Linked DNA regions of Homo sapiens: region 1 is linked to region 2. The links come from fine-mapping of genetic effects on gene expression. A gene starts in region 2. The other region holds a variant in brackets. All regions are shown on one strand. Distances are between the middles of the regions. Region 1 holds the start of LOC102724046 (a long non-coding RNA gene). Region 2 holds the start of TLR5 (toll like receptor 5).

Region 1 (5,377 bases), 48 kb before region 2:
AAACAGGTTATAAATGGATTGTATGAACGAGTTCAAGACAGCCCCTGTGTATTGGCCCCCATGCTGTTTACTTCCACACCACAGCCCAGGACCGTTAACTCAAGCCTGCCAGCACCAAACTCAAATTCTTGCACATCCAATTGCTTTAAATGTAGGCCAAATATTATTTGCCCATTTAGAGCCTGCCTGCTTCGATAATTTGCAAAACTACACCCGACACCCTCTCACCATAGGTAAGACGAACCTCAGGGCTACAAAAGACCCCAAATGGCTGCTGTCCTTTGGAGCTCTCTGACCCAGAGACTCCTCACCATGATGCTCCCCACCATGAACCCTCTTGGGTTCAAACGATCCTCCAGCCTTAGCCCCCCAAGTAAATGAGACTTCAGGTACATGCCACCAGGCCTGGTTAATTTTTAAATCTTTTTTTAGAGATGGGGTTTCACCATGTTTGCCTAGGCTGGTCTCAAACTCCTGAACTCAGCAATCTGCCCGCCTGGGCCTCCCAAAGTGCTGGGATTACAGGTGTGAGCCACTGCACCTGGCTCCTTTTCTTTTCTTCTAGACCTGTGACATCTCTTAGACCTGTAACCTCCTCTCTGATCCTCCTCTCCCCTGGGAGTGTCCTTGCCCTTTTCTTCTGGTGGTGGCCCTGCCACTGCCTCTGGAAGGTCTTCTGCTGCAAGGGACTTTCCCCTTCCATGCATTCTGTCCAAGCTTCATCCAAATAAAGCTCTTGTGTGCTATTGCCATCTAGTGATCTGGTCTTTTTCTTGATCTTTCCCCAACATTCAAACTCATGAGAGTATAATTGTGTAAATAAGCAGATAAATCTAATTTTAGACACTACCTACCAAGGGGCTTCACTGACGTCTGTAATGTGAGAGTTAAGCAGCTTAGCTAGTAACACTACTGAAACACCACTGTTTTTACTGAAAGATATAATGTATGCAGGGGTCATTCATCACAGATACAGAACGTCCTAAAAAGAAAAAAAAAAAGTAGCATCAAACACATTTTAAATTATAGACCAGAAGAGTAAACAGACTTGTCTTGTTGGTTTTGTTGCTGCCTCGTGGGGCTAATGGCCAGCCCCTGGACAGTCCCAAGGGGGCAGCTCAGTTACCATTCTCAGGAAGAGGATACGACTGTCTACGGCTCTTCCCAACAACAAACACAGAGTAGCCATGCACATCTCAGGAATGGAGATGGAGCAAGAGAAAAACTAGCGATAACAGCTAGAGTTGGTTGCATTTCTAGTAGGTGCTAAACAACATGCAAGGTGTTGTACATGCATTATCTCAGGTATTCCTCACAAAACCCTATTATTAGTCCAAAGCTCAGAAGAGTTCATCAATTTGCCAAAGTTGCAAATCTAATCCATGGTAGAATTGGGATTCAAAGCCTGGTCAATGAGACTCCAGGAAGGACAGGATTTAACCGCCTTGCCCTGTTGCAGAAATTCAACTAGCCTGAGCATTTTGCAATGTGTCATAACTTCTGATAATGGGCTGAATAAAGGATGGCAGCAACATCGGTAGGAATTGCAGTATCTCTCAAAGTTACGGGCCAGGGGAGGGTGGGACAGGTGTCAGCAGACAGACTCCATGGACATGCTACATCCTGGTGTCAGATTTGGGGTACTGACCTCCACTGGGGTGTGTGTGGTGGAACAGGGTTCTGCCTAGTCACAGCCCAGTTCTATCAGATCAGGAACCCCGTCATCCTCCCAGGCTCCTTCCTGGCCACCTGCAGCAGCTGGGCCCAGGGCTGCTTCCATATTCAAGAAAGAGAGACATCGAAGTGACAGGGATGGAACAGAATGCTGAGAGATCAAGGGAAGTTTCTAGTTATTTTCCCATCCACACCCAAGCTCTCTCGTCCTCCGTTGTCAGCCCAGTCAGGAACATCTCGTCACTCACCCCACCTCCATAGGAACTGACCCTCTGTGGATGGTTTTCCATGGCTGCCATAACAATGTGCACTAAGGGAGTGGCTTGAACCAAAGAAATGTCTTGTTTCACAGTCCTGGAAGCTGGAAGTCCAAGATCAAGGTGTCAGCAGGGTTGGACCCTTCTGAGGGCTGTGGGGAGAGTCTGTTCCTGGCCTCTCCCTTGGCTTCTGGTGGTTTGCTGGTGATCCTCGGCTTGTAGAAGCTTCACTACGATCCCTGCCTTCATCTTCACCTGGCACTTTTCCTGCATGAGTGTCTACCTCTAAATTTCCCATTTTTACTTATTTTTTATTTTAAAATTAAAAAAACTTTTAATAGTAGAAAATTTTGAACATACACAAAAATAGAATAGTATAATGAACCCCCATGTACCCATTACATAG[T/C]GTCGACAATGACCAACAAATGGCCAATCTTATCTCATTTGTTCCTCCTCCCTGCACCTATCTCTATGGAAATATTTTAAAGCAAATTCTCCTTATCATTTTATTTACATACATGTCAGTCACATGTCTTCTAAATGATAACTTTTTTTTTTTTTTTTTTTGACACAGAGTCTCAGTCTGTCGCCCAGGCTGTAGTGCAGTGGTGCTATCTTGGCTCACTGCAACCTCCACTACCTGGGTTCAAGCAATTCTCATGCCTCAACCTCCTGAGTAGCTGGGCTAACAGGTGCATGCCACCATGCCCAGCTAATTGTGTGTGTGTTTAGTAGAGACAGGGTTTTGCCATGTTGGCCAGGCTGGTCTTGAACTCCTGATCTCAAGTGATCCACCTGCCTTGGCCTCCCACAAAGTGCTGGGATTACAGACGTGAGCCACCACACCCAGCCAAGAACTCTTAAATACATAATTTTGATACAATTATCTCACTATTAACTGAACAAAACAGTATCACCTGGCCAGTCATGGTGGCTGACACCTGTAATCCCAGCACTTTGGGAGGCTGAGGTGGGTAGATCACTTGAGGTCAGGAATTAGGGACCAGCCTGGCCAATATAGCGAGACCCTGTCTCTACTAAAAGTACAAAAATTAGCCAGGCATGGTGGCGTGCACCTATATTCCCAGCAACACAGGAGGCTGAAGCAGGAGAATCACTTGAACCCAGGAGGCAGAGGTTGCAGTGAGCCGAGATCACACCACTGCACTCCAGCCTGAGTGACAGAGTGAGACTCTGTCTCAAAAAACAAAACCAAAACCAAAAAACCCAGTATTACCAGATAGCTACTCAGTGTTCACATTTCCCCAAAAGTCAATTTGTTCAGGATCTCAACAAGGTCTATGTACACATTGTGTTTGGTTGATATGTCTTAAATTTCTTAAAATCTATAGTAGTTTCCTCTTCTCTCTTTTTTCTTATCATTTATTTATTGGAAAAAATTAGTTCACTTACCTTGTAGCATTTCACACATTTTGAATTTGGCTGATTATATCCTTTTCTTTTCTTTTCTTGTCTTTTCTTTTTCTTTTCTTTCTTTCTTTTTTTTTTTTTAAAGAAAAGGTCTTGCCCTTGCTCTGTCAACGAGGCTGGAGTGCAGTGGCACAAATACAACTCACTACAATCTCCACCTCCTGGGTTCAAGCGATCCTCTGGCCTCAGCCCTGCAAGTAGATGGGACTTCAGGTACATGCCACCATGCCTGGCTAATTTTTGTAGAGACGGGGTTTCGCAATGTTGCCTAGGCTGGTCTTGAACTCCTGAGCTTAGCAGTCCACCCACCTGGGTGTCCTAAAGTCCTGGGATTACAGGTGTGAGCCATCATGCCCAGCCCTTTTTCTTTTCTTTTTATAAAAAGCTTTTATTTTAGGTTCAGGGGTACATGTGCAGTTTTGTTATATAGGTAAACTCTTGATACTGGGGTTTGCTGTACAGATTATTTCATCAACCAGGTAGTAAGCCTAGTAACCAATCGTTTTTTCTGATCCTCTCCTTCCTCCCACCTTCTACCCTCAAGTAGGCCCCAGTGTGTGCTATTCCCCTCTATGTGTCCACGTGTTCTCATTATTTACCTTCAACTTATAAGTGAGAACATGTGGCATTTGGTTTTCTGTTCCTGCATTAGTTTGCTAAGGATGATGACCTCTAGCTCCATTCCTGTACCTGCAAAGGACATAATCTTCTCCTTTTTTATAGCTGTGAAGTATTCCATAGTGTATATGTACAACATTTCCTTTATCCAATCTGCCCTCGATGAATTTCCCATTTTTTAAGGACACCAGTCATATTGGATTAACCCCTTTCCTACTCCAGTATGACCTTGTCTTACCTGATTCCACATGCAGTGATCCTGTATGAGTCTGTTCTTGCGCTGCTATAAAGAAATACCTGAGGGTAGGTAACTTATCAAGGAAAGAGGTTTAACTGGCTCACGGTTCTGTGGGCTGTACAGGAAGCATGGCTATGGCATCTACTCAGCTTCTGGGGAGGCCTCAGGGAGCTTTTACTCAGGGCGGAAGGCAAGTGGAGCAGGCAGATCTCATGGCCAAAGCAGGTGCAAGAGAAGGAGAAGGAGGGGCCACACACTTTCAACCCACCCGATCTCACGAGAACTCACTCACCGTCATGAGGACTGCACCATGAGGATGGGGCTGAACCAATCATGAGAAATCCTCCTCCACGAGCCACTCACCTCCCACCAGGCCCCACCTTCCACACTGGGGACTACATTTCAACATGAGATTTGGGGGGACAAATAACTAAACTCTATCAGACCCTATCTCCAAATAAAGGAACATTCTGAGGCACTAGGGGTAGGACTTCAACATATAAATTTTGGGGGTCCACAACTCAGCCCACAGCACTCCATAATTCAGAAAGCCTTTTCTTTCCTGCAATAGTTTTGTTTGAGTCAATTGGCTGTTGTATCTGTAATGTCTCACACTCACAAAGCAGCTCATGATCTTCCCTGGCTGTGGGGGGAGCACAGGCTTCCACAACCCATGTGAGATTGAGTGTATTCCCTCCCAGGTCACAGACCCCCCATCACAGGGCACAGCTCTTTGCAGAGCACACAGGCCCCCATCAGGGGCTGGGGGAGCGGGCCCAGACCAGCACGGGTCCTCGAACTGCCGTGTTCTCAGAAATGCTGAGTATTCTCTCCTTAACAGCCTGGTTCCTGAGCCATCTATCCTATCCTGAGCTGGTCTCCATGTCACAGCGCTTACTTCTCTCACTTTGGCCTTTGCTTTGCCCTTCATATGAGCTGCCCTCCATTGTCTTGTTGGCTAAGGCCTCGGCTCTTGCTCATGGTTGCGTTGGCCACCTCGGGGAATATCTGTAAGGTTTGGGCTGACCCTGAATCATCCTGCCTCTGCCACTCTCCTGGGGGGACACTCCCACTCCAAGCCCCAGCTTCCTGGGAGAGGCCTGAAAATGCTATTCAGAGGGTGCTGACTCCCCTCGAGGGGCTGGAGCCATCCTTAGAG
Region 2 (5,377 bases):
ATACTTTCGCACTTAATTGCGCTCTAATTGTTTCACAGGTGCTGGTTTTGTCTTCCTACTTAGACCTAGGAGCTTTTGGACAGCAGGGACTATGCCTCAAACTTGGGTTTGTCCCAGAGAGCGGAAGACACTATACGCTGTTGCTCTCACATTAAGGGACCAAGGCTGGGAATCACTTAAGCTTCAGAAATCTGATTGAAGCTTTGGATCTGCCTTCTGCATTCTTTTCCACAATGTTAAGAGTGAAACAAACACATCTGGATGCAGTAACTGGACATTCCAGTGCTGTCTGCTGTTTAAGTCTGTTAGTATACAGAGACAAATAAACAGGAGAGTTTTGCTTTCAACACTCAGCAGAGCCAAACTTCCTGATGCACGGGAATGAACAACGGAGGCACTGTTCTGGAAACACCGTCCTCCAGAGAGGCGCTCCCTCCTCAGAAACAACACCGAAAACCTGGCATGGCTGGTTTTGCATTCAGACAATGGCACCTACATGCTTTTTGCTTTGCTCAGAGCTGTAAATATCCAAAGAGGTGATCCTCTGCCATCATTTTGGAAGGAAGAATCAGTCAGACTGATAATTAGGGTCATACGCACAGGCATGGTCATGCTGATTGTTGAAATTTAGATTATTTTTGGCCCAGCACAGTGGCTCACACCTGTAATGCCAGCACTGTGGGAGGCCAAGACAGGCGGATCACCTGAGGTCAGGAGTTTGAGATCAGCCCGACCAACATGGTGAAACCCCATTTCTACTAAAAATACAAAAATTAGACAGGCGTAGTGGTGGGTACCTGTAATCCCAGCTACTTGGGAGGCTGAGGCAAGAGAATCGCTTGAACCCTGGAGGCAGTGGTTGCAGTCAGCCGAGATTGTGTCACTGCAGTCCAGCCTGGGCGGCAGAGTGAGACTGTCTCAAAAAAAAAATTACATATATATATATATATATATATATATATATATATATATAGAGAGAGAGAGAGAGAGAGAGAGAGAGAGAGAGAAAGAGAGAGAGAGAGATTATTTTTGTACTGCTTAGTAATTAGCTTTAGCACGGTCTCTCCTCTGGGACCTCCCCTGGAATTTCCCCACAATCCAGTAACTGAATAATTAGCATCCAGCCCCACAGAACTTCTCCCAGGGCCCTGCTCCAGGGCTTCCCTTCTGACTGGCTGTGCATGGCACACTGGGAATTGTTTTCTGCCCACAAGAACAAGGGTGAACTGAGTCAAGGAGTCCAAGAGATCTTGGACGCACTTCTCAGAATTCGGAGGGGCTGGGTAAATGCAGGAGAAAATTGATGAAACCACATTGGCCCTGCAAGAGCCTGACTGCTCCTGCACGGTAGCTACCCCTAGCATTAGCGGGGAGTCACCAATGCCTCTTCCAGGCACTGAGCAAGAGGGCGGCATTACAGATGCACTTGCCGTCCAAACAGATCATCTCATTGACTAGGTGACTGCTCAGCAACAGTATCTGAAGGACACTAGGGTTACTCTGCTTGTTTGCAGTTCACGGTGCTGGACGGATGTGTTCCCAACACTAGGTAACAACACCGCTCTCCCTCCTCCGGGAGAAAGCCGCAGCCGTCGATTCCCACCCAACAGGGCCTCAGCGCCTTCCCAGGGCAGCACCCTCACTCCTGCAACCACCAATCACCCAAGCCACAGCATGGTCCCAGACCCACCCTCGCCCCTTAGGAAATGGCTTTCCAATTGTGTTTTCACAGGAGCATGGCCACTGGGCAATGATCTTCACAGGCAGGCTTTTTTTTCCCCCTCTCAACATAAAGGCCAGCAATATTTACCACGGAGTCTTGGCCAGTGTGCACTGCCTGGTGCTGTGGGGTGGGGTGTTTAGGGCCTTTTGTTGAGCAGCTCAGTGACTTTCTGGGATTTCCATGGCCCTGCTGGAGATGGCCCTCTGTCTCCCTTTTCCAAGGAAGAAAGTGACTGGGGACAAGCCACCTGCCTCTTCCACAGGGTGGGGGCGAGAGTGACAGCGAGACAGCACAAGAAGGACCCGCTCTGTTTCAAAGCGAGGATGTGAGTGACTTCGTCTGTGCCGAGGTCTCTTCGTCTCCAACCTGCCGGGCACAGGGCACCCACATGACACGCTCACCCCGTCCCTGGGCCGAGGGACCCCACGTCTCGCGGGTGCCGCGGGGCAGAGAGCGCCGCCTAGTGAGGCGGCGCGAGTTGGACATAGACTGGAAAATAGACCCGGACAGCCCGGGAGGAGGGCGGAGAGGAGTCCGACCTCCGCAGGCAGCCGCGTCCCCGCCCCGCGCTGCCTACGACTTAGGGCCCCCGGCCCATCCCCTGCCGCTGCAGGGCGCTCACCTCTGGGACGCCTCCCCGCGCCGCCTGCGCCACGGTTGGCTCCTCCCGGACGCAAAAGCGGCGCCCTCGCTCGGGCTCCTGAAAACCTCGCGGCCCCGCCCACGGAAGGGCCCGCCCACCTGCCAGGCCACGCCCCCGTCTCGGCCACGCCGCAGCTCAGGGTTTTCTCTGAGGGCTGTGAGAGGCTAGGCCCGGGGAGAGGAGGCAGAGGTTATGCTCCGGTCTCTGCAGACTTCCACAGTGTCTATCGAGATCACACATGCCAGCATTGCCCCCTCCCATCCTCTCCTCATCGTACGGAGGAGGAAACCCAGGCCGAAGACCTGAAGTGTCCAAAAGCACAGCCAGGCCAAAGAGAAGCACCATCCCATGTTCTCCCACTCCCACTCCGGTGCTTCTTCAGGTAGGCTAAACTTCAGGCTAAAATGTGAAGATCACAGTGACACATTCCTGTCAGCAGAATCTGCTGCATATGTTTGGGAGCTGGGGTGTTTGGAAGCTCCGATTTTGTGTGGAGGACCCAAGAGAGAAGACAGACCCTTCCTGTCCTATAAGAACAGTGCTCCTCCTGCCCTAACTTCTCTTTTCCTTTTTCTAACTCCCTCTGCCTATGGGGTTTGCTGAAACTTTCAGGAAAAGGGACGTGTCAAAAGAAAGAAATGGACACCCCAGAGGCCGTGCAACCACAGGGTTAAAAGGAGGTAGCCTTATGAGAAAGCGGTGGAGTGGCTTTCTGGGGTGAAACCCAGTTCAAGGACAGAAATAGCACTGTCTTGAGTTAAGACTGGTGGTGGGGGAAGCCTGGGGGTGGGGCGCAGACTGCAGGCGGAGGAGCTCCCTGCCACCTGCCACTTGGGGTGTAATCACAGAGCAGCTGACACTCCCCACTCACTGCCTGGAGGAGCTTGGCGGTGGGATCGGGCAAGGCGGGAAAGATAGGTGTAAAACAAAGCCTGGCACTTAATTACAGTGCAAAGATCTCATTATAGAGTCTTCTCAGCTCCCCTCCTCGGCTGGCAGCTTGAAGCCTGAGTGACAAATTGCCTAGGTAGGTCTCCAAGGGCTGTATGTAGAGGGATGAAACCACCTCCCTGCCCACCCGAACCCCACTGTGGGGGCTGTGGAGAGGGAGGGGATGTTCACACTCTGGCATATGCAGGGGGCAGTGGGGAAGTCTGTAAGGGCACCTAGAAAGCAGTAAGAGCTGGGAGCCACAGTGGCCCTAGCCTGACATAAATAACACCTTGCTGGGGCAAGCCCAGTGTTCCCTCTTTTGGTAGTGGAACCGAGGGCAAGGTTGGGGACAGCTTGACGTGTGGCACTGTTTACTCTGCATCATAGGTGGATGCTGCAAGACCAGCAGGGGCCTGGCTTATCATGCAACTTTGTGAATATGTGGGAGAGAGGAGCCTTCCAGACGGTGTTATGGCCTCCCAGGAACTCCCAAAGCCCCCTCCCCAGGGTGGCATCTGGTTTTGGACACTGGTTTCTGTCACTGAGCTCCAGGGACTCATGTCACACCTGGAAGAACTTTTAGATTCTGTCTGCCTGGCCATGTCTTCCAACAGCCGAGATCATTGAGGAAGATGACAACTTCTACCTGAACAGCCAGGACAGCTTAGGGTCTTCTCACATGTGGACCTTGAAATGCACTTCTGTTATTTTTCTCCAGTATATTCAGGGGAAGGGGGCTGGTGATCAAAGCTTTTGCTGAGCAGGAACAGAAGGGTTGTCACTTGCTTTTTTCTCCACTGAAACCTAGAGTAGCAAACACATCCTCGGGGTGCTATGTGATGCTCACAGGCAGAGCCCTGCCAGAGGTTCCCGTCATTCCCATATATTAAACCTTCAATGTCTTCCCTATGAACTACAAACAAAGTTTATATTCTAGGTCAAAACCCCATCGTCTAGCCCCTGACAACTTCTCTAGGCTTGTCTGCTTCCAGCCCCAACCTCCCAGTCCCCAGCCTCAGCAGCTGCCTTCCACTTGCTTAAGGTCTTCACGCATGCTATTTCTTCTACCTGGAATACTCTTTCTCCATGACTTTGCGTAGCTCACTCCTACCCACATTTTAGTGTTCCCTGTAATGTAACTTCTTCAAAGAGAACTTCCCTAACTCTTCTAATTAAATTAGGTCCCTCCCATTATTCTTCCTCTTTATAACCTATTCTTTTCCTTCACAACTCTCATTTCAATTTATGATTTTACATGGACATGTTTATTGGTTCAAGGTCAGCCTGTCCTTCATACTTAATAGATTTAATAGACTGTAAGCCTCACGAGGGTAGGGGCCATGTCTGATTTGTTCACTTCAAATCCAGTATCTGACAAGTGTCTCCCTATAAATATTTATTGATGAATGAATGAGTGAATGAATGATATCAGCAATCTTTATCTTAAAAGATAAAATTAGAACTCAATAAACTTGTAAACATAAGCAGTAGTGACTATTTCCATTAAAAAAGGTAGCAACCAAAACAAGATTCAAGGAAATACAAATACCAAGGTTTATTAGGTACTTCTTAAAACTAACCATCCATTCAACAAATGTGTATTAAGCTTCCGTAGCCCTTGTGCTTCTTGCCAGAAATACAAATCTAAATACGATCTGGCTCTCAGGAGCTTGCAGCCTGGGGGAGTAGGGTTGGACATGTAAATAAATGGTTATAGTGTAATTTGATAAATGCTGCAATAATATAGGTATCTAACTCTGCCTGGGAGTGCCTATATCTGGGACTTGGTGAAAAAGAAAAAGATGACTTTGTCACCTGGACGGGACAGAGGGAGGGCATTCTGGGCAGGAGACGAATGAAGGAATGTGGCTCATTTGGGGAACTGCCAGTGGTTTGGTAAATGGAGCGCAGGTTGTGTGAAGGATGGAGGCGGTTGAAGAGGTAGGTAGGCAATCACCAGATCCCACGTTCATGCACATGTGTTCTGCTGAGGAGTCTGGGCTATGCTCTGCCTCCCTGTAGGGCTTGGGGATCCACTGGATGGTGTTAAGCAATGGAGTGGCACCACACCTTCATAT

The links. PIP is the estimated chance that this variant, and not a neighbour inherited with it, causes the effect.
Region 1: its variant is the best candidate, but not a certain one, in a credible set for the expression of TLR5 in nasal epithelium (TOPMed, PIP 0.59).

The regions. Positions count from the first base shown.
Region 1 is chr1:223,092,440-223,097,816 of GRCh38, forward strand. LOC102724046 (a long non-coding RNA gene) reads right to left here and starts at 3,446. Exons shown (of 2, transcript XR_007066892.1): 1 at 3,345-3,446; 2 at 1-2,035. The variant T/C (reference allele first, on the strand shown) is at 2,338.
Region 2 is chr1:223,140,851-223,146,227 of GRCh38, forward strand. It overlaps TLR5 (toll like receptor 5), which reads right to left and starts at 2,398. Exons shown (of 6, transcript NM_003268.6): 1 at 2,346-2,398; 2 at 798-913. It overlaps LOC124904522 (a long non-coding RNA gene), which reads left to right and starts at 2,505. Exons shown (of 2, transcript XR_007066895.1): 1 at 2,505-2,748. RefSeq lists a silencer at 2,187-2,556.